4 linked regions of the Homo sapiens genome follow. The protein of the gene in region 1 interacts with the protein of each later gene in a biochemical or structural test. Each region holds a gene or a part of one and is shown on either strand. Other genes may lie near its edges.

The links.
Region 2: the proteins of MAP4K4 (region 1) and GBP3 form a complex in vitro, tested with the Homo sapiens proteins (one study listed by BioGRID and IntAct).
Region 3: the proteins of MAP4K4 (region 1) and MOB4 form a complex in vitro, tested with the Homo sapiens proteins (one study listed by BioGRID).
Region 4: the proteins of MAP4K4 (region 1) and STRN form a complex in vitro, tested with the Homo sapiens proteins (one study listed by BioGRID).

The regions. Positions count from the first base shown.
Region 1 is NC_000002.12:101,700,707-101,707,706, forward strand, and holds part of MAP4K4 (mitogen-activated protein kinase kinase kinase kinase 4), read left to right. Parts: intron 1-7,000.
Region 2 is NC_000001.11:89,012,830-89,019,867, forward strand, and holds part of GBP3 (guanylate-binding protein 3), read right to left. Parts: intron 2,586-7,038; coding exon 2,458-2,585; intron 1,828-2,457; coding exon 1,718-1,827; exon of another isoform or gene 1,602-1,717; coding exon of another isoform or gene 1,576-1,601; intron 1,451-1,575; coding exon 1,254-1,450; intron 599-1,253; coding exon 356-598; intron 1-355.
Region 3 is NC_000002.12:197,540,064-197,547,101, reverse strand, and holds part of MOB4 (MOB-like protein phocein), read right to left. Parts: intron 6,992-7,038; coding exon 6,949-6,991; intron 6,752-6,948; coding exon 6,665-6,751; intron 1-6,664. Other genes in the region: HSPE1-MOB4 protein, read right to left, coding at 6,665-6,751, 6,949-6,991.
Region 4 is NC_000002.12:36,956,506-36,963,543, forward strand, and holds part of STRN (striatin), read right to left. Parts: intron 1-7,038. UniProt on the Homo sapiens protein: Calmodulin-binding scaffolding protein which is the center of the striatin-interacting phosphatase and kinase (STRIPAK) complexes.

The sequences.
Region 1 (7,000 bases):
GTTATCACACTTAGAAAAATGTCATATATTCACTATTAACGTTTTCTTGATTGTCTCATACATCAGTAAAATGTGTTTTTTTTTTTTTTTACTATAACAAGTTCTTTAATGTTTACAAGCGGGTACTGGGAACTTCAATCTTAGAAGTGGTGAAAATAGCAGAACATCTCTTTTTTTCCTCTTTTTAACTATTTAATTTCTAGAACCATTTACAATTATGTGTAGGAGTTAATTTAGGATTTTTGTTGGTATGATTTGCTTGTGGTAGATTTGGGATTACATTATTAACACTTTAGAGTTTGTTTATTGCTGCTAAACATCCTTTAGGATGAATAGCATTAAAGTTTGAGAAATACTTGTTGCTGAATTGTTATTTATAAAAAGGTCTTTATTTTTAAACATAATTTCAGGTAAAAAAAATCTGTAAGCTGAACAACTTGTCCTAATTTATTTTAGTGTCATATTTTCTATTTTTCATTAGCGCAGATGTTGCTTATTTTGAGGCAACTATATTTACATGAAGTGAGTGAGTTGAAAAGAGGGAGTTTTCTGAGATTTGATATGTCGTATGAAATAGCTTCTTTTGGGGCGAACGACTCTCCTGCAAAACTGTGCTAATGGTAGACCCCTCATTTATGGAAGAAAGGGAGGGGGAGGGGTGTGTGTGGCAGTAGGGCTAAGAGTGACCTTTGGGAATGGTAGAAAGGTTAGGGAGTAGTGGGAATTTCAAGGAGATGTTATTTGGACTTGAGGAGAGACATCTTCTTTAAGCATTGAGGAGCCACTGAAAGGTTTTGTTGGAATTGGGGATCCCTGAGAGTAGGGGACTTGATCCAGTTTTTTGGGGATAACTTCTAATTTTCTGTGTCTCTGACAACAGTGGTAAATGGTCTGGTATAGTTGAACAGTATGTAACTTCATCTTAAAAGAAGGAGGTGAAAAACGGGGTGTATTCTGTTTAGAGAAATTTATTTTCACCCTTAGGTTTTTGAGAGACGGATACTCATAAACTTAAAATTGTAAATTTCTCTTCACAAGGTTACATTCAGAGTACCATATATTTATAAGAGAAGTGTCTGGTATGATCAGTGAGGAGAATGATAGTGTGAAAAATTAAAACCAGAAATAAATCAAGTTTGTTTCCATGTTATTTTGGATTTTATTGTTATTTTGTTTTGAGACGGAGGTTTGCTCTGTTGCCCAGGCTGGAGTGCAGTGGCACCATCTCTACTCACTGTAACCTCCGTCTCCCGGGTTCAAGTGATTCTCCTGCCTCAGCCTCCTGAGTAGTTGGGATTACAAGTGCGTGCCATCACGTCCAGCTAATTTTTGTATATAGAGATGGGTTTTCACCATGTTGGCTAGGCTGGTCTTGAACTCCTGGCCTCAAGTGATCTGCACGCCTTGGCCTCCCAAAATGCTGGGATTGTATACAGGCATGAGCCACTGCACCCGGCCTTATTGTTATTTTAAATATTTATTTGACCATTTTTGTGTTCTTGGGGTAACTACTGTTATTTTGCATTTTGTGAGCATGTGATGGCTGGTGTTCCAAATGTCTTGAATAAAAGATTGTCAACCGGACGCGGTGGCTTACGCTTGTAAATCCCAGCACTTTGAGAGGCGCAGGTGGGCGGATCACTTGAGGTCAGGAGTTCGAGACCAGCCTGGCCAACATGGTGAAACCCCGTTTCTACTAAAAATACCGAAAAATTAGCCGGGTGTAGTGGGGGGTGCCTGTAATCCCGGCTACTCAGGAGGCTGAGACAGGAGAGTCACTTGAACCTGGGAAGTGAAAGTTGCAGTGAGCCGAGATTGTGCCATTGCACTCCAGCCTGGGCAACAAGAGTGAAACTCTGTCTCAAAAAAAAGAAAAGAAAAGAAGATTGCCAGCCTGAGGACAATTCTGAGTCTTGGAAGGACTGACAGAGGGGAAATCCGGTAACAGTAACGTGGAAGTCAGGGAGTTTAGAATCCAGCAGGTAAAATGTCTGAAATCAAGGTTCACTCAAAGGAGGGACCATAGATTTTGTGGAAGACTGACCCATTCTGATCTTGTCATTGGAGGAAGGGTACAATGTGGACCTTGGAGATTGAGGACAAGGGTACCCTAGGCCCAAAGACCTTGATGGTAAGGGGAGCTAACGCTAAGAGTTTGCTCATTCGATGCCCATTTGACACTGTGCTCATGTTAGACCCCTCATTTATTGAAGAAAGGGAGGGGAGAGGTGAGGTGTTTGTGTGTGGCAGTAGGGCTAAGAGTGACCTTTGGGAATGGTAGAAAGGTTAGGGAGTAGTGGGAATTTCAAGGAGGTATTATTTGGACTTGAGGAGAGACATCTTCTTTAAGCATTGAGGAGTCACTGAAAGATTTTGTTGGAATTGGGGATCCCTTAGAGTAGGGGACTTGATCCAGATGTGTGTTGGGAAGGAGCTGGTAAAATGGTTGGCCTTGGGCAGTGGTCCAGTGACAGGAGGTGAAGGCCGAGGCGGGATAGTGGCAGTGGTGGTAGAGAGGAGGAGAGGTTGGGGTGGATACTTGGGCATTACTCTTTGCTAGGTTTAACATGTTGAATTCACTCGTTCTCTGCAGGCTTTGGTATGTCCCTTTAAGTGGGTACACGGTTTGCCCACAGTATTAGGAGGAGCTTTGGGATTCCCAGCACTTTGGGAGGCTGAGACGGGCGGATCACCTGAGGTCAGGAGTTGGAGACCAGCCTAGCCAACATGGCAAAACCCCATCTCTACTAAAAATATAAAAAGTAGCCAGGCGTGGTGGTGTACGCCTGTAATCCCAGCCACTTGGGAGGCTGAGGTGGGAGAATCGCTTGAACCTAGGAGGTGGAGGTTGCAGAGAACTGAGATCATGGCACTGCACTCCAGCCTGGGCAACAGAATGAGACTCTGTCTCAAAAAAAAAAAAAAAAAAAAAGGCGGGGGTGGGGTGGTTAAAGTGCTAAAATTGCTTTCGATTGCTCAGTGGTAAAGTGCCATATAGATTGTCTGGCTTTTAAAAATCATTAGGGGCCGGGCACGGTGGCTCACACCTGTAATCCCAGCATTTTGGGAGGCCGAGGCGGGTGGATAACAAAGTCAGGAGTTCAAGACCAGCCTGTCAACATGGTGAAACCCCATCTCTACTAAAAATAGAAAAATTAGCCGGGCGTGGTGGCGCGTGCCTCTAGTCCCAGCTACCCAGGAGGCTGAGGCAGAAGAATTGCTTGAACTTCCCCAGGAGGTGGAGGTTGAAGTGAGCCGAGATAGCACCACTGCACTCTAGCCTGGGTGACAGAGCCAGACTCCTCCAAAAAGAAAAAATAAAATAAAAAAATTTGCATTTTGGAGCAAGTACTTAAACTTTTGTGAGGGATTCTCTAAGTGTTATCTTTTAAGTGTAGCATCTCTCGTTCTTAATTGGAGGTAAAGACATCCACTGGGGCAAAATGAATTTTGTAGAACCAGATGTTTTCATTAGGAGGAGATTGTGTCAGCTGATCTGCCACTGAGAGGCATGTTCAGGCTTGTTCTGAGACATAGATTTCCTTCATGTGGAAGATTCTGGACTTGGACAAGGTGGGAGGAAGCCAGCCCTGTTGAGCAAGCCCTGCTCTCAAAGAGTTTCAACCCTTACTTTCAAAAACTGTTTTACTAACTCAAACATCAAAAGCTCTACAGAAAAGCCAACCACCAAACAAAACCCTGCTGATGATGGGTTTTTAACTCCTTACTGCTTGAAACTTTGTGATAAATGTACATTTATTTGCCTAGCTGCAAACTCAACTCGTATTTTGCCTTTTTTCTTAACCAATATTTTATGTGTGTGTGTGTGTGTGTGTATATATATATATATATATATATATATTTTTTTTTTTTTTTTTTTTTTTGAGATGGTGTCTCGCTCTGTCGCCCAGGCTGGAGTGCAGTGGTGTGATCTCGGCCCACTGCAAGCTCTGCCTCCCAGGTTCAAGCGACTCTCCTGAGTAGCTGGGACTACAGGTGCATGCCACCAAGCCTGGCTAATTTTTGTATTTTTAGTAGAGATGGGGTTTCACCATATTGGCCAGGCTGGTCTCGAACTCGAGTCAGGGTAAAGTTTTTAGACATACAGGGAAAGATGACTAGGAAGAAAATGGAGAAGGCCAAGGTAATCTTATATTTATTACCAGTGACCATTGTGGCAGCAATGGTTGTTAGGTTTTATAATGTTATATCACTGCTCACCAAACAGAATTTGTTCTTTTGTTATGGAGCAGGTTCAGTAATAAGAGTTGGTGAGTATTATTCAGAAGAGAAGCTGCCTCTTGGGTTGAGTAATTAATAAAGTGATTCATTGGGAGGTAGTTTTTGTCTGTAAGAATCTCTAAGGAATGATCACAATGATAAGTTTTAGGACATCCCGTTTTAAAAACTGGACTCTTACAAACTTTGTTATCTAGATAGCATTAGGTATAACTAAATTGGGGAGACAAAAGTGAAAAACGATTAACCATATAAGGGTGGTTTCATGCAGGTACTGTGGATGTGTGCTGGGCCCTGTTCTGAGAGTTAGATACACAGTGGTAAATGAAGCCGATGATATATCTACCCTTATGGAACTCAAGAAAAACAGGGGGATGGACACAAAATGCCAGCTGTGGGATGTCAGTCATACATTCTGTGTTGTCTGCATCTCCCTGGGTTCCCTGCCCAGCACACTTGTGTTCAGACACAATGAATGCACTGACACATGGAAACAGCACATACTGCAATGTGTTCATTTTAAGTGGCTCAACCTCATCAGCAGGGCTTCTCTGTGCTTTAAATTACAGTAAAAACAAATGAAAAGTGAAATGAAAAGGTAGACATATAGAATATCAGTCTACTTTTTTTACTCGTAGAATCAAAAGACATTTTCCCATGTCAAATTGCTGTAAAAGTTTTTGTTTTTGTTTTCTTTTTAAAAAAGTATAAGAAACTCAGGTGATATAAAAGTTTTTATATACTTTTAATTTCAGAAATGATCTTGCTGTGGTCAGCAGACCACACTTTGAGGAACACTGAACTGGCAGGATTGAATTTGTAGCAGGGCTCTTAGTAAACTGTGGGTGGTTGGTGTGTTAGTGAGCTGGAGAATTGAGGACTGTTGTTTGTGCCTAGTATTTGGTTCTCCCACCCTTTGAACATTGGGGAGCTACAGCAGGTGCTGCTTACAGCTTTATGCTTTAGTGCCAAAACGTCTTTGACCCCTGTGCTTTGGAACTGTCTCAGATATGGCTAAATATGAACAAGTTATCCTATTAAATTTAAATAAATGAAAGAAAAACCCCACTTTTACATTATAACTTTAAAAAATCCTTCATATGATAAATAGGGCCTTAACTTACCAGTTATGAATCGATAGTTATAATCAAATGATACTAAAGCGCTCATACCAAAAGTCAGAGTCATCCTGTTCTCCAGAAGCATGTTTTCAGTGCTTTTAGCTGCTACATCTGAAATTTATTGCTATATTTGTAAATTATGTACTTATGTGGCTAGTTCATTTATCAGTTTTATACATTTATTGACGTCCTCTAGCAGTAGTTGTAGTTATTGAACTAGTTAGTTCAATAGTAGTTGAATATTTAACTCCTATACTTGCTGCCTCCCTTAAGTGGGCATACCATAATTTTGGGTTAAAGTGATAGTTGTTTCTTTTATCATGACTATGTAAATACCATTTATATGTGAGCTAAACAGTCTCATACGATTACATTTCCTTTTTTAAACAACACCCCTGCCCCCACATCGCTTTTAGTTTTTCATTTGCTTAGTTTTCTTTGTACCTATCATCACCTTCCTCCTCAGATACCCTAAAAGGTATAACAAATGCCTAACAAAGTTTAGTCTTTATCACATTTTCCAAATGCTTAATTTAACACCACACGTCAGATAATTTATTGTTGCAAGATAACCTGTTGATTTCAATTTTTTCTCCCTGGAGTTTCCTCATAGCTATGCAGGTATGGTTGCCCCTGGACCTGGCATGTAGCTATTATTGTCCTGGAATGTCTGTTTCCTGGATACTGCAGTCTTCCTTTTTGGTTTACTATCTTACTTTCCTGAAGCACATCCTCTAGTAGTTTTAAAAGAAAGGGTATATGGGTATTAAGGTTTTAAGTCCTTGTATGGCTGAAAATCCCTTTTTCTTATCACTGCCTCATCTTCTCTTGTCTGGAACATAACTGCTTTCGATTTCTTTAGGGACTAAATCTCTGGTTTCCTGTGGGTATGGAGTGATGTGAGGCAGTTACCAGACTGTGTAAGGCAGAGAAAGGGGACCTGGGGCTTTCAACCACTAAATATGCAAACTTTCATCAGTTCTGATTTTGGCCTTGCACCTCACTTGGTATTGGTTTATTCCAAATGATGACCTTGTCAGGGTTTTGTAGGTCCAACTGTCTCACTTCTTTTTGGTATCCTTTAGTAGGCACTTAGGTTGTAATTTTTACCTCTTAGTTACTACTCCATCCACTTTTTATTTTATCTTTTTTTTTTTTTTTTTTGAGACAGTCTCACTGTTGCTTAGGCTGGAGTGCAGTGGCGCCATCTTGGCTTACTGTAGCCTCCGCCTTGTGGGTACAAGCAATTCTCTTGCCTCAGCCTCCCAAGTAGCTGGGACTGCAGGTGCGGACCACCATGCTCGGCTAATATTTGTACGTTTAGTAGAAATGGGGTTTGACTATGTTGGCCAGGCTGTTATCGAACTCCTGACCTCAGGTGATCCCCCTGCCTGGGCCTCTCAAAGTGCTGGGATTACAGGCATGAACCACTGCCCCTGGTCTGCCTGTCTGTCTGTGTCTTTTGAGACAGAGTTTTGCTCTGTCCCCCAGGCTGCAGTACAGTGGTGTGATCACAGCTCACTGCAGCCTCAACCTCCTGGGCTCAAGCAAACTTCCCACATCAGCCTCTTGAATAGCTGGGACTACAGGTGTGCACCACCATGTCCAGCTAAGTTTTTTTTTTTTGTTTTTTTTTTTTT
Region 2 (7,038 bases), on another chromosome or scaffold:
AGGTGGAGTTATTCTATGCTCCTTTCATATTTTTTTTTTCCTCTGTCACCCAGGCTGGAGTGCAGTGGCGTGATCTCGTCTCACTGCAACCTCTGCCTCCCAGGTTCAAGCAATTCTCCTGCCTCAGCCTCCCAAGTAGCTGGGATTACAGGTATGTGCCACCATGCCTCATTTATTTTTGTATTTTTAGTAGAGACATGGTTTTGCCATGTGGGCTAGGTTGGTCTCAAACTCCTGGCCTCAAGTGATCTGCCCTCCTCGGCCTCCCAAAGTGCTGGGATTACAGGCATGAACCATCATGCCTGGCCATCCTTTAGTTTTAACAATGAGTGGAAGTACTACGAAGGGGACTTACGAGGCCCATTGACCTTGATGCCTCCTGAAAGAGTTTTAGTTTTGGAATTGCTAAAGATGTAGGAACAGAAGTCTGCTACTTGTTGCACAAATTCAGGGTCCAGCTCTTCATCTTGTAGTTTCTCAAGCTGGGCAAGCTTCCTGCGGTGAATGGGCAGATCGAAGACAAAACATTTTTTCTTTGGGAAGAACTTCCGGATACAGAGTCGGGGCAGATTAAAATTTTTATCTTTTTGACTGGTACCTAGAGAAACATAATAAAGAAATTTGCCTAATATAAGTGTTTCCGTAAAGCGTCAAATAGTAAATATTTTAGGCTCTGCAGGCTAGGTGGTCTCTTTTCCAAGTACTCAACTTTGTTATTGGAGCATGACAACAGCTTTAGACAATATGTAAATGAATGGGCATAGCATTCTTCCCAAAAAACCTCACTTAGAAAGACAGCTGGCAGGCAGAATTGGCCATCATTTGTCTTAGGCTGCAGTTCGCCAGCATTTGGACTAGTACACTGTTCATGTTCAATCTATGTTCTTTAAGTAAATATCCATTGTCCTTCATATTTTACAGGTAAATACAGAATCACGAACCCTACATAAGGAGATAAAATTTACCTAAATTGTAAAATAGGAAAAAATGAAAGAAAAAGAAACTTATTTTAGAACACAGGAGAATATAATTTAAAATCTAATCTATTAATTTAGATATTCAGCAAGCATTCATTCCTTTTTTCCTTTTTTCAAAAAACCTTTTCTATTGCTAATAGCAAGCATTAATTCTTAAGAATAGCAAGCTAGAGATATAGAAAACTGTAAATGTGAGAAAACTATCAATAGTAAACTAAAAAATGATAATTTCTAGTGTTTTGTCGTCCTCATTTATCAATGGTACGTCTCTGTTACCTTGCGTTAGCTTCAGGGAATACTCCAGGTACTCATCTGGTGTGAGGGGTTGTCCATCTGCTTCCAAGTCCAGGGAGAAATCTCTCAGTGTCCACACAAAATCTGGGAAGAAGCTCACAAAGTCAGCTGAATCCTCATTCTCATTCTCATCAGGTGAGGATTTTGATCGGATTCGATGTGTCAGCTCTGTCACATAGCTGAGTAGCTAACTAAGGAAATGTGACAAAATGAACAGGAACCTCATCCCATATTAGTTCAACACATTCCCAAACCTTCCATTTTCCTTTGATCCTAACCTAAGTGTCAATTCTAAAGTGGATACATGGGATCTCTCCTCTGTACTTGCATTATTTTTTGTTTTCTCCTTTTGAGCTTGATTCATCAGGATTCACAGTCAGGCAGCTGGTTTATGAATACAGGTGTCCCCTCTGACCTTGGTGCTGTTCTGGGTCACAAAAGGATACTACAGTTGGTCCATAGCCTGCTGGTTGATGGTTCCCATGCTATTGTACACGAGAGTGCTGCTCAGGAGGACGGCCAGGGTGAAGATCCAGGAGTCATTCTGGTTGTCACCCTGGAAGTCAAGACACACTGGAGTCAGGAGCAAGTTTCATCATCACAGCACTTTCCAGAGTGACAGTAGTAAAAGTATATCATAAGTTAGAGTTTTCTTTTAAGACTAATGACCTATGAAAAGAACCCAAATCCAAACAAAATGATTGTTACTCAGCTGTGGAATGTGTATAGTTTTTTGATTAGTGTTTTTTGGTATACACTGATTCTCACCAGGTCCTCTTATGATCATTGGCAGACAATTGCAAAATAAACATTCAAGGTTAATGGGCATTCTAAGGCCTGAAGTATAATTTAAACTTGCTCAGGCTACTGAATTATAAGTTCTTTGCAGGATAGGACTCGTGACATTGGATTTATTTGTGCTCCCTTTATGCATCTGTGTTAACTCACATAGCTTACAACCTATGGTTAGTAGAATACTGTGTGTTGACCACCATGCTTTGCTAGGATTCTGTCTTATGAATATTTTTCTCACTTCTGGTTGCTAAGTTTGGCCTTATGACATGTACACAGAAATGAAAAGACAAATTATAGTTAAATGCAAACTCTTCTTTAAGAAAAAACTAAATGGTGCTTAAAATATTCAGAGATGAGGGGCTTATTTCAAAATTGAATCTTTGACCCTTACCTTCTTTACATCTCCCAGGCCCTCAGTGTCAAGCAGGACTAAGGTGTGTTCTGGCTTTTTGGGGTGAGGCACACACCACATCCAGATTCCTTTGGTGTGAGATTTCACTGTGGAGCCCAGAGAGAAGCCTGTAAAGGAGAGATGGGATAAGAAGGGCTGGAGGTTTAATAGCAGGTACTTCAGGAAATTGAGGCAAATGTAGCATCATGATTAATGTTAAGAGAGATAACCAAAACCACAATCAGTACTTACGTTACTTATAATCAGAAAAATAGAAAAATTTGAATATCCAGTACATAAATGGATTCAGGACCTTTCATGATAAAAACAATCAACAAATTAGAAATAGAAAAAAACTGAGGAAGGAGAATCACTTGAACCCAGGAGGCGGAGGTTGCAGTGAGCTGAGATAGCACCACTGCACTCCAGCCTGGGCAACAGAGCGAGACTCTTGTCTTAAAAAAAAAAAAAAAAAAAAAAGAGGGATAGAGAAACAGAAAAAAATTACCTCAACAAAACAAAGGACATACATGAAAAATCCACAGCCTGCTTCATACTCAATGGTGAAGACTGAAAATTTTCCTCTAATATGGGAACAAGGAAAAGATGCCCACTTTTGCCACTTCTTTTCCACAAAGTACTAGAGGTCCTATCCAGAGTAATTAGGTGAGAAAAGGAAACAGAAAGCATCTAAATTGGAAAGGAAGATGTAAAATAATCTCTATTTACTGATGATATGATCTCTGCAGAAAACTTTAAATATTACACAGAACTGTTAGAACTAATAAAAAGAATTCAGCAAAGTTGCAGCATACAAAATTAACATGCAGAAATCTGTTGCATTTGTATACAGTAGCAAAGAACAATCCACAAAGGAAATTTTGAAAGCAATCCCATTTAACATACCACCAAAAGGGCAAACTACTTCAGAATAAAATTGGCCAGGCACAGTGGCTCACGCCTGTAATCCCAGCACTTTGGGAGGCTGAGGCAGGTGATCACAAGGTCAGCAGATCGAGACCATCTGGCCAATGTGGTGAAACCCTGTCTCTACTAAAACTACACACACACACACACACAAAATTAGCTGGGTGTGGTGGCGGGCACCTGTAATCCCAGCTACTCGGGTGGCTGAGGCATGAGAATTGCCTGAACCCAGGAGGTGGAGGTTGCAGTGAGCCGAGATTGTGCCACTGCACTCCAGGCTGGTGACACAGCAAGACTGTCACAAAACAAACAAACAAAAAACCCAAAAAACGTAACCATAGAGGGGAATGACTTGTATAATGAAAATTACAAAATTTTTTTTTTTTGGAGACAGAGTCTCACGGTGTCATCCAGGCTAGACTGTGATCACTGATCACTGTAGTCTTGACCTCCCAGGCTCAAGCAATACTCCCACCTCAGCCTCCCGAGTAGCTGAGACTACAGGCACGTGACACCAGGCCTGTCTAATTTTTGTATATTTTGTAGAGATGGGGTTTCCCCGTGTTGTCCAAGTTGGTCTCAAATTCTTGAGCTCAAGTGATCTGCTGGCCTCAGCTTCTCAAAGTGCTGGGATTACAGGTGTGAACCACTGTGCTTGGCCAAACATTCTTAAAAGAAATTAAGGAAGAGTTAAATAATTAGAAAGACATCCTGTAAAAGTGACATACAGATTCAATGCAATCCCTATCAAAATTCCAATGATTTTTTTATAAATAAAAACATCAAAAATATCCACACTAACTTTCATATGAAATTTCAAGAGATCCCCAAATTGTCAAAATAATCTCAAAAAGGAAGAAGAAAGTCAGAGGCTCACAGTTTCTGAGTTCTGAAACTTACTACAAAATCAGGATAATCAACACAGTTTGGTATTGGCTTAAACACTGTTATCAACTAATGGAGTAAAGTAGAGAGCCTAGAAATGAACTCTCACATCTATAGTCAAAAAATTTTCAACATGGATGCTAAAATCATTCAACGCAGAAAGAGGAGTCTCTACAACAAATGACATTGGGAAAACTGGATATTCACATGCTCACATGCCAAAAAAAAAAAAAAAGTTGGACTGTTAGCTTACACAATCCAAAACGTAACTCAAAATGGATCAAAGAACTAACCATTAGAGCTAAAACTATAAAACTCATGGGAGAAAACAAAGGGGAAAAACAGACAGTAAAAGGAAAAACAGATAACTTTGACTTCATCAAAATGAAAAACTTTTGTGCATCAAATGACACTATCAACAGAATAAAAAGGCAACACATGGAATGGAAGAAAACATTTGCTAAACGTGTATCTGATAAGGAATTGATGTCTAGCAAATATAAAGAATTCCTACAATGCAACACAAACAGATTAAAAAGTAAAGAAAGAACTTGAATAGACATTTCTCTAAAGAATGGCCAATAAGCACCTGAAAAGATGCTCAACATTACTAGTCATTAGGAAAATGCAAATTAAAGCCATAGTGAGATACTACTTCACATCCATTAGTATGGTGACTATCAAAAAAAATTGAAAAGGGCTGGGTGCAGTGGCTCAAGCCTGAAATCCCAGCACTTTGGGAGGCTGAGGCAGGTGGATCACCTGAGGTCAGGAGTTTGAGACCGGCCTGGCAAATATGGAGAAACCCCATTTACACTAAAAATACAAAACTGAGCCATGCATGGTGGCAGGTGCCTGTAATCTCACCTACTTGGGAGGCTGAGGTAGGAGAATCGCTTGAACCCGGGAGGTGGAGGTTGCAGTGAGCTGGGGTCGTGCCACTGCACTCCAGCCTGGGTGACAGAGTGAGACTGTGTCTCAAAAAAAAAAAAAATTAAAATAACTGTAGGGAGACCCCGTGAAACTATTGCTATGGAATAAAAGATGAAATGCTCCTGATTATTGTAAATACAAAATTGCATGCAGGATTGTGCAAAGACAGTGCCAGGTTGGACTGCCAGAATGAGCCAACGGGACGTGATGTGCTTCCCCCTGCAGAGAGCCTATGAATGGATGTGCAGTCAGGGAGGTTTCACATCACCAAGATTCCTATCCCAGAAAAGCAGATGTTCATAGCTCTGGGAATGGAATGAGACCCTTGTGGAGAGAGGGGGCACCTGTCCATGTGGATAAGATAGGGCCATAAACGCATTCATCTTGCCATGGCTCTTCTAGGCCTCTTTAGGGTTAAGGCATACTCCCTTCTGAGAATTTCTGGTCTAACCGGTTGTCTAGCTTCACGTCTTGTTTCTATGGATTGTTTGTAACCAGCTTTTGCTGCAACTGTTACTGCTGATTAATATCTTGCTAATCATAGGTTATGAAAGACTGCATTTCTGTTTTAAGGCTCTGTTAGAAATTACTGATGCACACACTATATTGTAAATTCTTATCTCTGTATACTGTACTTCTGCATACAGATGTTATGTTAAAGAATTACTTCATCCCCATGTGACCATCTCACCTCATAATCAAACGACCCTAAATCCCTCACTAACCTTCCCCCACCCTCACTAAACTTAATAATAAATGCTGGCATATCCAGTGCATTGGCAGCACCACGGGACCAGAAGGCTGTGACCCCCCTGGACCCAGCTTTCACTATCTTGTGTGTATCTATTATTTCTCGACCTGCCGGTCTGCCTGGGAACAAAGAGAGAGCCCCGTTGCATTGCAGGCTGCTGGCCAGATCCCGCAATAAATAACAAATGTTGGTGAATATGAAGAGAAATTAGAACCCTTGTGCATTTCTGTTGGGAATGCTAAATGGTGCAGTCACTGTGGAAAATGATACAGCAATTCCTTAAAAAATTTAACATGGAATGACTATATGAGCCATCAGTTCCACTTCTGGGTGTATACTGAAAAGGAGTGAAAGCAGGGACTCGAACAGATATTCAGACACCCATGATCCTATCAGCATTATTTGTAATAGCCAAAAGGTGTAAGCAACCCAAGTGTCAACTGACAAGCGAACAGATAAATTAGTATACACATATAATTACTTAGCCTTGAAAAGGAAGAATTTTTTATTTCTTTATTTATTTTTGAGATGGAGTTTCGCTCTATGCCCAGGCTGGAGTGCAAAGGCACGATCTTGGCTCACCGCAACCTCTGTTTCCCAGATTCAAGTGATTCTCCTGCCCCAGCCTCCTGAGTAGCTGGGATTACAGGCATGTGCCACCATGCCCAGCTAATTTTGTATTTTTAGTAAAGACGGGGTTTCTCCATGTTGGTCAGGCTAGTCTTGAACTCCCGACCTCAGGTGATCTGCCTGCATTGGCCTCCCAAAGTGCTGGGATTACAGCCATGAGTGCCCAGCCAAAAAGGAAAAATTTTGACACATGCTACCACACTGAACCTTGAAGACATTATGTGAATTAGAATAAGCCAGTCACCAAAGGACAAATATTGAATGACTCCACTTATATAACATTCCTAGAGTAGTCAAATTAATAGAGATGGAATGTAGAATTGTGGCAGGAGATGGGTGTAGGTGGGGCTTTTGTTTAATTGGCACAGAGTTTCTTTTGGGGAAGATTAAAAAGTTCTGGAAATAGATGGTAGTGATGGTTGCACAACAATTTGAATTTAATTAATACCACAGAA
Region 3 (7,038 bases), about 96 Mb from region 1:
GATTTTCTTTAAAAAAAAGAAAGAAAGAAGGTCTCACTATGTTGACCAGGCTGGTCTCGAACTCCTGGCCTCAAGCGATCCTCCCATCTCAGCCTCCCAAAGTGCTGGGTTTACAGGCATAAGCCATCACGCCCAGCCCCTTATGATTTTCTGAATAACATTTTCTCTAGCTTCCTTCATTGCAATACACTATATAATACACAGAACATACAAAATGTGTGTTAATCGACTGTTATCGGTAAGGCTTCCAGTCAACAGTAGGCTATTAGTAATTAAGTTTTGGGGGAGTCAAAAGTTAGATACTCAGATTTTCAGCTGCACAGAGGGTTGGGATCCCAATCCCGGAGTTGTTCAAGGGTCAACTGTATAATGCAAGCCATATATTTAATTTTAAATTTTCTAGGCCCAATGTGGTGGCTCACGCCTGTAATTCCAGCACTTTGGGAGGCCAAAGTGGGAAGATCACTTGAGTCCAGGAGTTCAAGACCAGCCTAGGCAACACAGGGAAATGCCCCTATCTCTACAAAAAATTTGAAAAATTAGCCAGACATGGTGGCACTATGATTGTAGTCCCAGCTACCAAGAAGGCTGAGGCAGGAGGATTGCTTGAGCACAGGAGGTCAAGGGAGGTAAGCCAAGATCAGGCCACTGCATTCCAGCCTGGATAACAGGGTAAGATTTCGTCTCAAAAAATTAATTAATTAACTTTCTAAGAGATACATTAAAAAGGGGATAACGTGAGGCCGGGCGCAGTGGCTCACGCCTATAATTCCAGCATTTTGGGAGGCCGAGGCAGGTGGATCACAAGGTCAGGAGATCAAGACCATCCTGGCTAACACGATGAAACCCCATCTCTACTAAAAATACAAAAAATTAGCTGTGCGCAGTGGCAGGCACCTGTAGTCCCAGCTACTCAGGAGGCTGAGGCAGGAGAATGGCAAGAACCCGGGAGGCGGAGCTTGCAGTGAGCCAAGATCGCGCCACTGCACTCCAGCCTGGGCAAGAGTGTGAGACTCCGTCTCAAAAATAAAAATTAAAAAATAAAAAATAAAAAGGTAACGTGAAAGAGGTGAAATTAATTTTAATATTGTAGTTTGACCCACTATATCCAAAATAATACCATTTCAGCAGGTAATTGATATAAAATTAATGGGCTACTTTTTGACTTTTAAGATATAATTGATACAACTAAAATTTACTCTTAAAAATTCAGTAGTTTCTAGTATATTCACAAAATTCTGCAACCATTACCACTAAATTTCAGAACATTTCAGCATCCCAAAAAGAAACCTTGAACCAATTAGCAGTCACTTCCCATTCTCTCCTTCCCCCAGCCCTAAGCAACAACCAACCTAATTTCTGTTTCACAGGATTTGCCTATTCTGGATATTTCATTAAAATGAAATAATATAATAAGTGGCATTTTGTGTCTGGCTTCTATTATGTTTTCAAGGCTTATCCATGGTGTAGTATGAATCAGTACTTCATTCCTTTTTTTAAAATTCAAAACTTTTTAGCCTTTAATGTTTTTAATATATACAAAATGCCGTACTGTATGTTTCTCCCTTTAAGACTTCATTCCTTTTCATGGCTGAATATTATTCCATTGTACACATACAGTCAGCACTTTGCATCTGCAGATTCAACCAACTGCAGATCAAAACTACACTTTAAAACCCCATAACAATAAAAAATAATACAAATTAAGAAATACAGTATAACAACTATTTATATAGCATTTATATTGTATTCAGTATTATATGTAATCTAGAGATGATTTAAAGTATATAGGAGGATGTGCATAGGTCATATGCAAATACTATGCCATTTTATATAAGAGACTTTGGTATCTGTGGTTTTGGTATTCATGGGGGTCCTGGGACCAATCCTCTGAGGCTACTGAGAGATGGCTGCAACACATTTTGCTTATCCATTCATCAGTTGATGGATATTTGGTTGTTTCCATTTTTTGGCTATCATAAATAATGTGACTGTGAATATTCATGTACAAGTCTTTGTGCAGATAAATGTTTTCATTTTGGGGGAACTACATATCAAGGAGTGGAATTCCTGGGTCGTATGCAACTCTATGCTTACCATTTTAAGGAACTTCCAAACTGTTTTTTGAAATAGCTGAAGCATTTTACAATCCCATCATCAATGTTTAGGGGTTCCACTTCACATCCCCGTCAGCACTTGTTATTGTCTATCTTTCCTATTTTAGCCATTATAGTGGGTATGAAAGTATATGCCATTTGGGGTTTTGATGCTTTTTTCTTAACATTTTAAAAAATTGTAGTAAAATATATACACCACAAATTTTTCCATTTTGACCCTTTTTTTTTTTTTGAGACGGAGTCTCACTCTGTTGCCCAGGCTGGAGTGCAGTGATGTGATCTCCACTCAGTGCAAGCTCCGTCTGCAGGGTTCACGTCATTCTCCTGCCTCAGCCTCCCAAGTAGCTGAGACTACAGGCACACGCCACAGCGCCCGGGTAATTTTTTGTATTTTTAGCAGAGATGGGGTTTCACCGTGTTAGCCAGGATGGTCTTGATCTCCTGACCTCGTGATCCGCCCGCCTTGGCCTCCCCAAGTGCTGGAATTACAGGCGTGAGCCACCGCGCCCAGACAGCTATTTTGACCATTTTTAAATGTACAATTTAGTGGCATTAATTTACAATATTGTGCAACCATCTTCACTGTTTCCAACTCTCAAACAGAAACTATTATGGCCAGGCATGGTGGCTCATGCCTATAATCCCAGCACACTGGGAGGCCAAGGCAGGTGGATCACTTGAGGCCAGGAGTTTGAGACCAAACTGGTCAACATGGTGAAACTCCGTCTCTACTAAAAATACAAAAATTAGCCTGGCATGGTGGTGCACGCCTGTTGTCCCAGCTACTCAGAAGGCTGAGGCAGTGAACTGCTTGAAACTGGGAGGTGGGGGCTACAGTGAGGCAAGATTGTGCCACTGCACTCCAGCCTGGGCAACAGAGTGAAACTCCAGCCTGGGCGACAGAGCGAAACTCTTGTCTCTTAAAAAAAAAAAAGAAAGAAACTCGGCTGGGCGCAGTGGCTCACATCTATAATCCCAGCACTTTAGGAGGCTGAGGTGGGCGGATCACATGAGGTCAGGAGTTCGAGGCCAGCCTGGCCAATAGGGTGAAACCATGTCACTACTAAAAATACAAAAATTAGTCAGGCGAGGTGGCACATGCCTGTAAATCCCAGCCACTTGGGAAGCTGAGACAGGAGAATCGCCTGAACCTGGGAAGCGGAGGTTGCAGTGAGCCGAGATTGCGCCACTGAACTCCAGCCTGGGCAAAAGAGCAAGACTCTGTCTCAAAAAGAAAAGAAAAGAAAAAAGTCTATTACCCTTAAGCACTAACTTCCCATACCGCCCATCCTTTGGCAGCTTCTACCTACCTTCAAATGTCTATATGAATTTATTCACTCTAGATAAGTGGAATGCTACAGTATCTGTCCTTTTGCATCTGACTTGTTTCACTCCACATAATACATACTGGATTTTAAAGGTTCATCTGTGTTGTAGCATGTATCAGAACTTCATTCCCTTTCATGGTTTTATAATATTTCATTGTATGTCCATGCTACATTTTGTTTCTCCATTCTCACGGTGGTTTTTTTTTTTCCCTTATCAAGCATGGTTGTGGAGGAGACAATGTTAATCAGCATAACAATAACGCACAACCCTCGCACCAACTGTCTGTGGTTTTGAGATGTGCCTTAATAACTAATGTTGAGCATCTTTTCATGTGCTTACTGGCCATTTCTGAATCTTTTTTTGAGACATGGTCTCTCTCTGTCACATAGGCTGGAGTGTAGTGGTGTGATCTTTGCTTACTTCAACCTTGAGTCCTTGGGCTCAGGTGATTCTCCCACCTCAGCCTCCCTAGTAGCTGGGACTACATGTGCACACCCATCACACTCAGCTAATTTTTTGTATTTTTAGTAGAGATGGGGTTTCACCATGTTGGCTAGGCTGGTCTCGAACTCCTGACCTCAGGTGACCCACCTGCCTCGGCCTCCCAAAGTGCTGGGATTACAGGCGTTACTGTCTTCGAAATCCAGTATTTATTTTGTGTTTACAGCATATTTCAATTTTGACTACCCACATTTCAAGTGCTACACAGCTACATGGGGCTCATGGGTTACCACATCACTGTATCTTTAGACCTTTAACTGGTTTCTGAATTTTTAATTTGGATGACATTTTGCATTGTTTTTAGCTGCCTTCCCTTCACCTTCCCCCAGTTAATTCTCAGGTAACTATTCCTACTCTGTAACAGTTATAACAGCAAAAAATGGCAAAATATAGCAGGTTACAAAATACTATGTAATGGTGTTTACAAATTTTTATGTATTATATTTTTCCAAATATATAATCATAATGCTACTGCAAGTGATCACAATCAGCATGTGACTGTGAGGGCTTGTAGACAGTAAGTTATAATGTTTGTCGCCTAGAAGCACTATTTGTATAATTTACTCTATATGCTGAATGCCTCTCTTTAATTCTCAAGGATACTGAATAAATGATTATTGGTGCTAAGTATTCTGCTGCTCCCACTTCAGAATCTCCCTAGTGATTTTAATCCATGAGAGCAATTTTCTTAGCTTAGTTTGTCAGTTCCTATAGTTTCCTGACTAAGCAGTTATTCAAAAACAGTTCAGAAAGTGTCCTTTCAAATTGTTCTTTTGTTTGTATTTTTACAGTAACTCCACTCAATATAACTACCACTTGGAAATCCTACTATCACCCTCCCTTGACACATGGCCAGTTCAACAGATCTGGACTTCAGCAAGCAATGCTGCAATTCTAAGACTCAATTTACAGGTCTTAATGCTAATGACTATCCTGTCATTTAATATTAATCAAGAAAGAAGTGGATATGAGAATGACAGTATATTTAAGAGTCATAACACATCACAAACTGGATATCACTTCCACTCTAAAGAAAGAATAATACATCATTACTATTTGCCAAAACAAAACTAGCCTTGATTCAGCCTTCTTGATTCAGTTTCCTAATTGCAATAATCACATCATTCACTACGTTAAGTAGCCAACTTCAGTGAATTATCAATGAAACCACTATGTGGATTTTCCCAGATGTAGACAGATACAATCTTTTTATTTTTTTTATTTTTTATTTTTTTTGAGACGGAGTCTCGCTCTGTCGCCCAGGCTGGAGTGCAGTGGCGGGATCTCGGCTCACTGCAAGCTCCGCCTCCTGGGTTCACGCCATTCTCCTGCCTCAGCCTCCCAAGTAGCTGGGACTACAGGCGCCCGCCACTACGCCCGGCTAATTTTTTGTATTTTTAATAGAGACGGGGTTTCACCGTTTTAGCCGGGATGGTCTCGATCTCCTGACCTCGTGATCCGCCCGCCTCGGCCTCCCAAAGTGCTGGGATTACAGGCGTGAGCCACCGCGCCCGGCCGACAGATACAATCTTAATACTGCTTCAATTAATTAACATAAAAATGTGACATCCTGAATGAAACCAGTCTTCCAAATAAGTACTATTCTCTTAGGTATCAAATACTCCTTATTTTGGAGCATTTGTCCTTTTTGAAACAAAAAACATCAGATATTGATTTTGCAACTAGGGCCTCACTTGTCTTCAAGCCTTAGAAGTCTATCAATATAATGACCACTTCAAGGTCTATGATTCTACAGAATTGGCCTAACCCAATATCCCCAGTGAGTCAGTGTCAAGTAAAAAGTAATTATAACAGATTAAATGGGAATACAGATTAAGGGAAAAGCAATGCATAAACAACCCAGATGTAAAGACCATTTTGGAGACAACTAAGGAAAAGTATACTGGGTATCAGATGATATGAAGAAATTTTTTAAATAAGAAAAAGTACAGTAGGCCAGGCACAGTGGTTCACACCTGTAATCCCAGCACTTTGGGAGACTGAGGTGGGCAGATTACTTGAGGTCAGGAGTTTGAGACCAGGCTTGCCAATATAGCAAAACCCCATCTCTACTAAAAATATAAAAATTAGCCCGGCATGATAGCGCATGCCTGTAATCTCAGCCACTTGGGAGGTTGATGCATGAGAATCTCCTGAATCCGGAGACAGAGGTTGCAGCGAACCGAGATCATACCACTGCACTCCAGCCTGGACAACGGAGTAAGAATCCATCTCAAAAAAAAAAAAGAGCAAAACAAAAAACTGCTACTGCCTATAGTCTTACCTTGACAAAAACTAAATAAGGAGAAAAACAACATGAATATTTAAAAGCTCAAAAGTAACATTTCTACTTAAACTAGGCATCAGAGTAATCAATAGTTCTTCCTATCAAAAGAAATAATCTGAACAAAAACCTAAACAGGCGTATCTCAATCATTACACAGTAGATATCAGCACAATGTGACAGATGTTAATCCGTAATAGCCAGTGGATCATGAAGTGAGTTCTAGCCCATGTAATTGCCCAATTATGAAAAATGATGCTTATCATAAGAAATCCTAAAATAGCACTGCAGTAACAACTTCACAACAAGCAACTCAAAATGAAATAGCAAAATGAACAGTGAACTAAAAACCCTAAAAACTTGTCTAACATTGTCTTGAGAGAGATTTAGGCTATAATAATTTTATTAGTTACTCTATTTCATAAATCCTCACCTCTTTTGGAGTTTTATGAGCTGCACAAAGAAAAATCCATTGTTCAGTTGCTGTCATTTGAGTGCAAGTATCTGGATGGCATTCACTCTGTTAAAAATAATTATATTTCTTAATATGTAAAATAATAATGAAAAAGCTTATCATTTAGGTTACTATATTTCCATAATAAATTCTAGAAGAAAGTTAGAAATGTGGATACGTTTTTGTAAGCACATTAAGTTATAAAAACAGAGAAAAAAAAATCAGAACTTTCAATTATAACTTTGACTTAAAGAAAATATTACCTGAAGTTTGACAGCAAGTCCATTTAGCTCAAGGCAGAACTGCCTGAAAATGCAAATACATAAATAAAAAGTCATATCTATTCTTCACAG
Region 4 (7,038 bases), about 65 Mb from region 1:
TATTTCTAATGGCCCAGAATTGAAACCTGGATGCTACACACATTAGCAAATCAAAAGTATAGCTGACATCAAGGAGATAGCAGGTGGGCAAAGGGGACTCTATCCAGATTATCTGAACTTTCAAACACCTTTCATTGACTGCATAGCAAAGGGTTTTGTTTGTTTTAAACTCTGCTTCAGTTATCAAGATTTTGGAGAAAAACTGTAGGTCTCCCTTTACCATTCAAAGAAAAGTAGATTTGAAATAAAGTTCAGGACTAAATAGGCACATCTCTTGATAAAGAAGTGCTGTCTGTCAACATTATTTCTCCCCCAAAAATTAGTAGGGCCATTCTTATTTGTCAGATTTTGAAAGTAAAATAAGAGAATTCAGTTTCCAGTTATGGTGCCCCACAACAATTCTTCTACTGAACGCAGCCAAAAATTCTGGACAAAATATTTTCACAATTTTCTTAAAAGCAACACAAAAATAGGAAGGAATTATCTGGCCAAAATAAAAGGGAAAATGGGAACCCAGTGAGGTAAAGGAACAAAAAGCCATTTTTGCCCTTAGGATATTGACCAATCACAACAAACAGCCTTGCAGGACTCAAGGAGCAAAAATCAAACACCCTACCCCTCCAGAGTGGACAGTCTAATAGGTGATATACCTCACATTTAGCTAGATCCCTAAAGGGCTTATGTCTTCAAAGCAAAGACAAAACAGAAGTATATTGGCCCTCAAATGTATTCACAACCAAAATTCACATCAGCTGGGTGGCCCAAACATCTTAAGTAATGCATTTACTTTAAAGTGATTCCAGGCCTGGCAGTGGCTCACGTCTGTAATTCCAGCACTTTGGGAGGCGGAGGCGGGCAGATCACTTGAGGCCAGGGGTTCAAGACAAGCCTGGCCAACATGGCAAAACCTCGTCTCTACTAAAAATACAAAAATTAGCCAGGCGTGGTGGTGCACACCTATAGTCCCAGCCACTCCGGAGGCTGAGGCACAAGAATCGCTGGAACCTGGAAGGCAGAGGTTGCAGTAAGCCAAGATCACACCACTGCACTCCAGCCTGGGTGACAGTAAGACCATCTCAAAAAATAAAAATAAAAAATAAAGTGGCCCCAGACTGGTAATAACTCTAGACATCTACCAGAAGGAAATGTAAAAAACAAAAAACAAACAAAAAAAAACCTTTCTGAAGAAGATACCTTTATTTGAGAGCTCAGATTAGTCTCATAGTTCTTCTTTTTGTCTTTTTTTTTTTTTTTTTTTTTTTTTTTTGAGGTGGAGTCTCTGTTGCCCAGGCTGGATTGCAGTGGTGCAATCTCGGCTCACTGCAACCTCTGCCTCCCAGGTTCAGGTGATTCTCCTGCCTCAGCCCCCCGAGTAGCTGGGATTACAGGCGCCCATCACGACGCCCAGCTAATTTTTTTTTTTTTTTTTTTTTTGAGACAGTCTCACTCTGTTGCCCAGGCTGGAGTACAGTGGCGCGATCTTGGCTCACTGCAAGCTCCGCCTCCTGGGTTCAAGTGATTCTCCTGCCTCAGCCTCCTGAGAAACTGGGATTACAAGCATGTGCCAACACACCTGGCTAATTTTTATATTTTTAGTAGAGACGGGGTTTCACCATGTTGGCCAAGCTGGTCTTGAACTCCGGACCTCAGGTGATCTGCCCGCCTCAGCCTCCCAAAGTGCTGGTATTACAAGCATGAGCCACCGTGCCTGTCTAGTCTCACAGTTTTTCAAGGACAGCAGGCGGCACACAAAGGTAAACTAAGGATACAAGGGAACACGTCGTCATGAACAAGAACCAGCAGAGACAACAGACCACACAAAGGCACCTCTAAGACCTCAGATAAAGGAAACGCAAAGACACTAACTAAAAAATAACTACTTACTATGTTTAAAGAATTAAAGATGACACTGAAAATACCTGCAGAGAACAGAACAATATTTTTTTAAGAAATGACCGAGCAGATTTGAAAAGAAACCAAAATGAACTTCAACAATAACCAAAACTAAAAATTCAGTGGATGGTTTTAACAAATCAGACTCAACTGAAGAGAAAATTAATGGAGTGGAAGATATGTCATTCACAGACTGGAAAATAAGTCAGAATAAATTATCGAGAATAAAGCATGGAGAGATAAAAAGATGGAAAATACAGAGCAGATAATGGAGAAGCCCTAAGATCATGTAATCAAAAACCCAAAAGGAGAAGAAAGGAAAATGCAATCGAGGACAAACCTAACAAGATAGCAACTGAGAAATCTGCAGAACTAATGAGAAGCCAATCCACAAATTCAAGGAGTCTAATGAAGTCCCAAACAAAATAAAAAGAAATATAGGCTGGGTGTGGTAGCTCACGCCTCTAATCCCAACACTTGGGAGGCTGAGGCGGGCGGATCACGAGGTCAGATAGAGACCATCCTAGCTGACACAGTGAAACCCCATCTCTACCAAAAATACAAAAAATTAGCAGGGCATGGTGGCGGGCGTCTGTAGTCCCAGCTACTCGGGAGGCTGAGGCAGGAGAATTGCTTGAACCCAGGAGGCGGAGGTTGCAGTGAGCCGAGATTGTGCCACTGCACTCCAGCCTGGGCGACACAGCTAGACTCCATCTCAAAAAAAGAAAAAGAAATCTATACTGTGACACATCATAATGAAACTACATAACACCAAAGACAGAGAAAATCTTAAATGCAACCAATAAAATAAGCTAGAAAGCAGTAAAACACAGTAAAATCTTTATGCCTGTTATCTAAAAAAAATAAATAAATAAGCATCAGTGTGGCTCTGCTTACCTCAGAAGGTTGTACAGTTTAAATGGTACAGTGTATCTGAAAGGGCTTTAAAGAAAACTGTAAAGAGTGCTGGCTGTAGCAGTACATATACTCAAATTGGAATGATACAGATGATTAGCCTGGCCCCTAGACAAAAAATATGAAAAAATAAAACTGTAAAGATATCTGGAGATGTAAGTGACAGCTTGTACAAAACCTATTTCATTCTTGGTCATTCAGCCTCCCTCTGAACCTCACTTTACCTAACTGAGCTGATTATTTCCAAAGTTCATTCCAGCTCAAAGATTACTCTGTCATTACATCTCAGTCAGAAGGAGGTGATTCAAATTATAATATTCTACTGCCTAAAAATAAAATGCTATCATCAGAAAGAACAATGGAAAAAGAAATTATATCCCAAATTCTATAAAAAGCCATCCATATAGGGAATACTAATAAAAGTGTTGAAATCACCAAACTTTTATAGATAATGTAAAAACAGAAAAAAACAACTAAAGCAGTGGTTCTCAATCCTTGCTGTATACTGGGGAGCTCAAAAAATACTAATGCTAGGGGTCCTCATTCCTAAGATTCTGATTTAATTGATCTGGGGTAGAGTCCAGGGAATTAGTATTCATTCCCTCTGATTATTCTAAGATTATAGCTAAGGTTGAGAAACACTGAACTGAAGAGACAAATAATAGGATACGTTTTAAAAGATTAAAGCCTCTATAACCTTTCTAAAATATAAAGATTATGAAATTATCAAGAATATGAGTAGAATGAAAAATGAACCTGCTGACAAAATTATACCATATGACAATGGAGTTCACCTGCTCCACATGTAAAGGAAGTGGCTTAAAGAGCCAAATAAAATGTAGGATTCATTTCATAATGTGGTTAGTAAATTTACACAATTTGTTACCCATGATGTAATGCAAAGTTAAGATAAACACATTCAGAAAAGTTTATATGAATTTCAAGGTAACAGATACCTACTGGGTTATTAAAAGGAAAGCAAATACACTTGAAGTATATCCTCAATGTTCTGAGGCTGACACTGAAGGCAACCATTCACTCCCATTAAATATCTCTTAGTGCCTGGGTCAGACCCAGAATATTACACTGCATGGCCTCAGGATGGCACTTGTATGCTCCAGCCTCAGAAAAGTTCATGACTGAAGATTATGCTTTTCTCTGGGGATGAGGAGATAACCGAGAGCAAAAGTTTAGCATCATGCATCTGCAACCATTTATTAAGCACTTACTTTATCTTATGTACCATGCCTCTGCTAAGTACTTTAAATTATCTTAATTTAATTCTCACAAGGTAATTTATTATCCTTAACTTACACATGAGAAAACTAAGGCTCTGAGAGATCAGAATTACGGCAAATATGTATTTTAGGCGTAAAATACAATAGTAAGTTTTAAAGCAAGAATTTTAAACCCAGGTCTCTGCCATATTGCCTTTTGTGATAATTATAAATAATAGTCACAATAATAAAGACAAACTCATTTTAAGTATTTATGTTTTCCATTAAAAAGCTCAGTAAATCTTCTCAGCTGTCCTATGAGGCTGCTCATTCTCTCTATATCCATGTATTTTTGTTTGTTTGTTTGTTTGATTGATTTGTTCTGAGACAGGGCCTCACTCTGGCACCCAGGCTAGAGTGCAGGGGCATGATCATAACGCAGTGCAGCCTTGATCTCCAGGGCTCAAGCAATCCTCCCATCTCAGCCTCACGAGTAGCTGGGACCACAGACGCATGCCAACGCACCCAGCTAACTTTGTGAATTTTTTGTAGAGATGGGGCTTCACCATGTTGCCCAGGCTGCACTTTTTTTTTTTTTTTTTTTTTTTTTTTCTGAGACAGGGTCTCCTTCTGTCGCCCAGGCTGGAGTGCAGTGGAGTGATCATGACTCACTGCAGCTTCAACCTCCCAGGCCCAAGCAATCCTCCCACCTCAGCCTCCCAAGTAGCTGGGACTAACCCGGCTAATTAAAAAAATTTTTTTTTCTGGAGATGGGGTTTTGCCATGTTGCCCAGGCTAGTCTTGAACTCCTAGACTCAAGTGATCCTCCTGCCTCAGCCTCAATCCCAAAAGTACTGGGATTACAGGATTACAGGTTTTGAGCCACTGCACCTGGCCCTCTAAAAACTGTTAAGTCATCTTTGACTCCCCTTTTTCTCAAACCCCACATTCTATCCTTTAGCACATCTTGTTGGCTCTACCTTTAAAAATGTATTCAGAATCCTGTATTTTGAATACGTATCAAATACATATTCACATATCTTATCACTACCACCTTAGTTCATCTTCTGCCTGGATTTATTAAAGTAGCCTCCTAACTAGTCCCCCTGCTGCTTCTACTTGTTTTCCCTCCAAGTCTGTTCTGAATCCTTACAAGGGGTCCCTTTTAAAGATGGTGTCACTCTTTTGCTTAAAACATTCCGACGGCTGCTCAGCTTGCTGAGGTATAAGGCCAAAGTCCTTACAATGGGCAAGACCCTGTCTGACATGACTTCTTCCATTAGTACCTGTTTGACATGACTTCTTCCATTCTCTTCCTCTACTCTAGCCACTTTTCCCTCCTTGATATTCCTTAAATATTCCAAGCGTGCTCCCTTCCCCCAGCTGTTCCTTCTGTGTAGAAAGCTCTTTCCTCACCTTAGAGATCACCTTTTCAGGTCTTAGCTCGAATGGCATCTTATCAGTGAATCCTTTCTTCCCCATTCCACCCTCTCAAATCCTCTTATTTTCTTTCCCAACATTCTATGTATTTATTTATCACTGTCTGCCTGCCTCAACAATTTAAGCTTCATAAGGGCAAGATCTGTATTTTTGCTGTTGTATCTCCGGTATCTAGAACAAGGTCTGGCATGAAGTAGATGCTTGAAAAATATTTGGGGAGTGAAAATACAAATTATTAATGCCAAAACCCAGAAAATACAAGTTATTAATGCCAAAACTCTAGCATACAGCCTCCACACCACATGCCCTAAGCTACTCAATCTTGCCACCTTTTTCATACAACTCTAACACTTACAGGTAAATATCAGGGCCTCTCCTACACCACACACCACACACATATCAAAATCTAGGGCCAACATTTTTTATTTTTTATTTACATGCCTGCTTTCTCATAAGTCAGTAATTTTCAAATACTGAGCCTTAGGTTCTCATGAACTCATAAAGTTCTTTACTCCTGCTATTCTCCCCATTCACTGCTGGCTCTTCTCTCCTTCACTATTCTTTTTTTTTTTCTTAAGATGGAGTCTCATTCTGTCGCCAGGCTGGAGTGCAGTGGCACGATCTCAGCTCACTGCAACCTCCGCCTCCCAGGTTCAAGCGATTCTCCTGCCTCAGCCTCCAGCACACACCACCATGCTCAGCTAATTTTTGTATTTTTAGCAGAGACAAGGTTTCACCATGTTGGCCAGGACGGTCTCGATATCTTGACCTCACGATCCGCCTGCCTTGGCCTCCCAAAGTGCTGGGGATTACAGGTGTGAGCCACCGCGCCCGGCCTCTCCTTCACTATTCTAAAGAAATTAGCCTTCTCCCCAAATGATAAACACTCTGATTCTTCTACAAGTTATATCGTACTAATAACTAGACTGCATGTTTCTTTGAGGTCATCTAGCACAATGCCTCACATACAGAAATTTTTCTCAAATATTATTAGTATTCCTTCTCCAATTCCTTTCACAAATGTAAAGCTCACTAATAATCTTAATCATTCTTTTTTTCCCCCCATGAACTACTGCCTAATCTCAACTGGATGTGAGGAGGGGAGCATTACCAAAAATAAAAAGAGAATTTATCAAATAAGATGAGCAAGAGTGAAATAAGTGACAAATAAATAGGTTTTTGCTATAACGTGGCCCTTTCCTTACTCCCAAGATCTGAAGGAGGGAGGAAGCAGTAAAGGCAGGCCAGGCAGATGAGAGCTTGGATTGCCTTTCACAAGTCTTCCCTGGCAACCTGAAAGAGCAGGACTGACAGGTTCTTGAAGAGGCAAATTTGACTTCATCTTAAAGGTATTTGTGTTGACTCTGGTGTTAATGGCTTAGGAAGAGATTTAAAAATTAAAAGGAGGACACCAACTGAGCCGTATTTCATCACAACGCATTCAACTATTTTACTTCCTATTGTGTTTCTAAGAAAATTCCAGTAGCAAAAGAAAAATAAAGAAGATTCAAATGTAACGATGGTAATAATTTTTTTTCCAATTACACTAATAAGGGGGGACAAAGACCAGAGA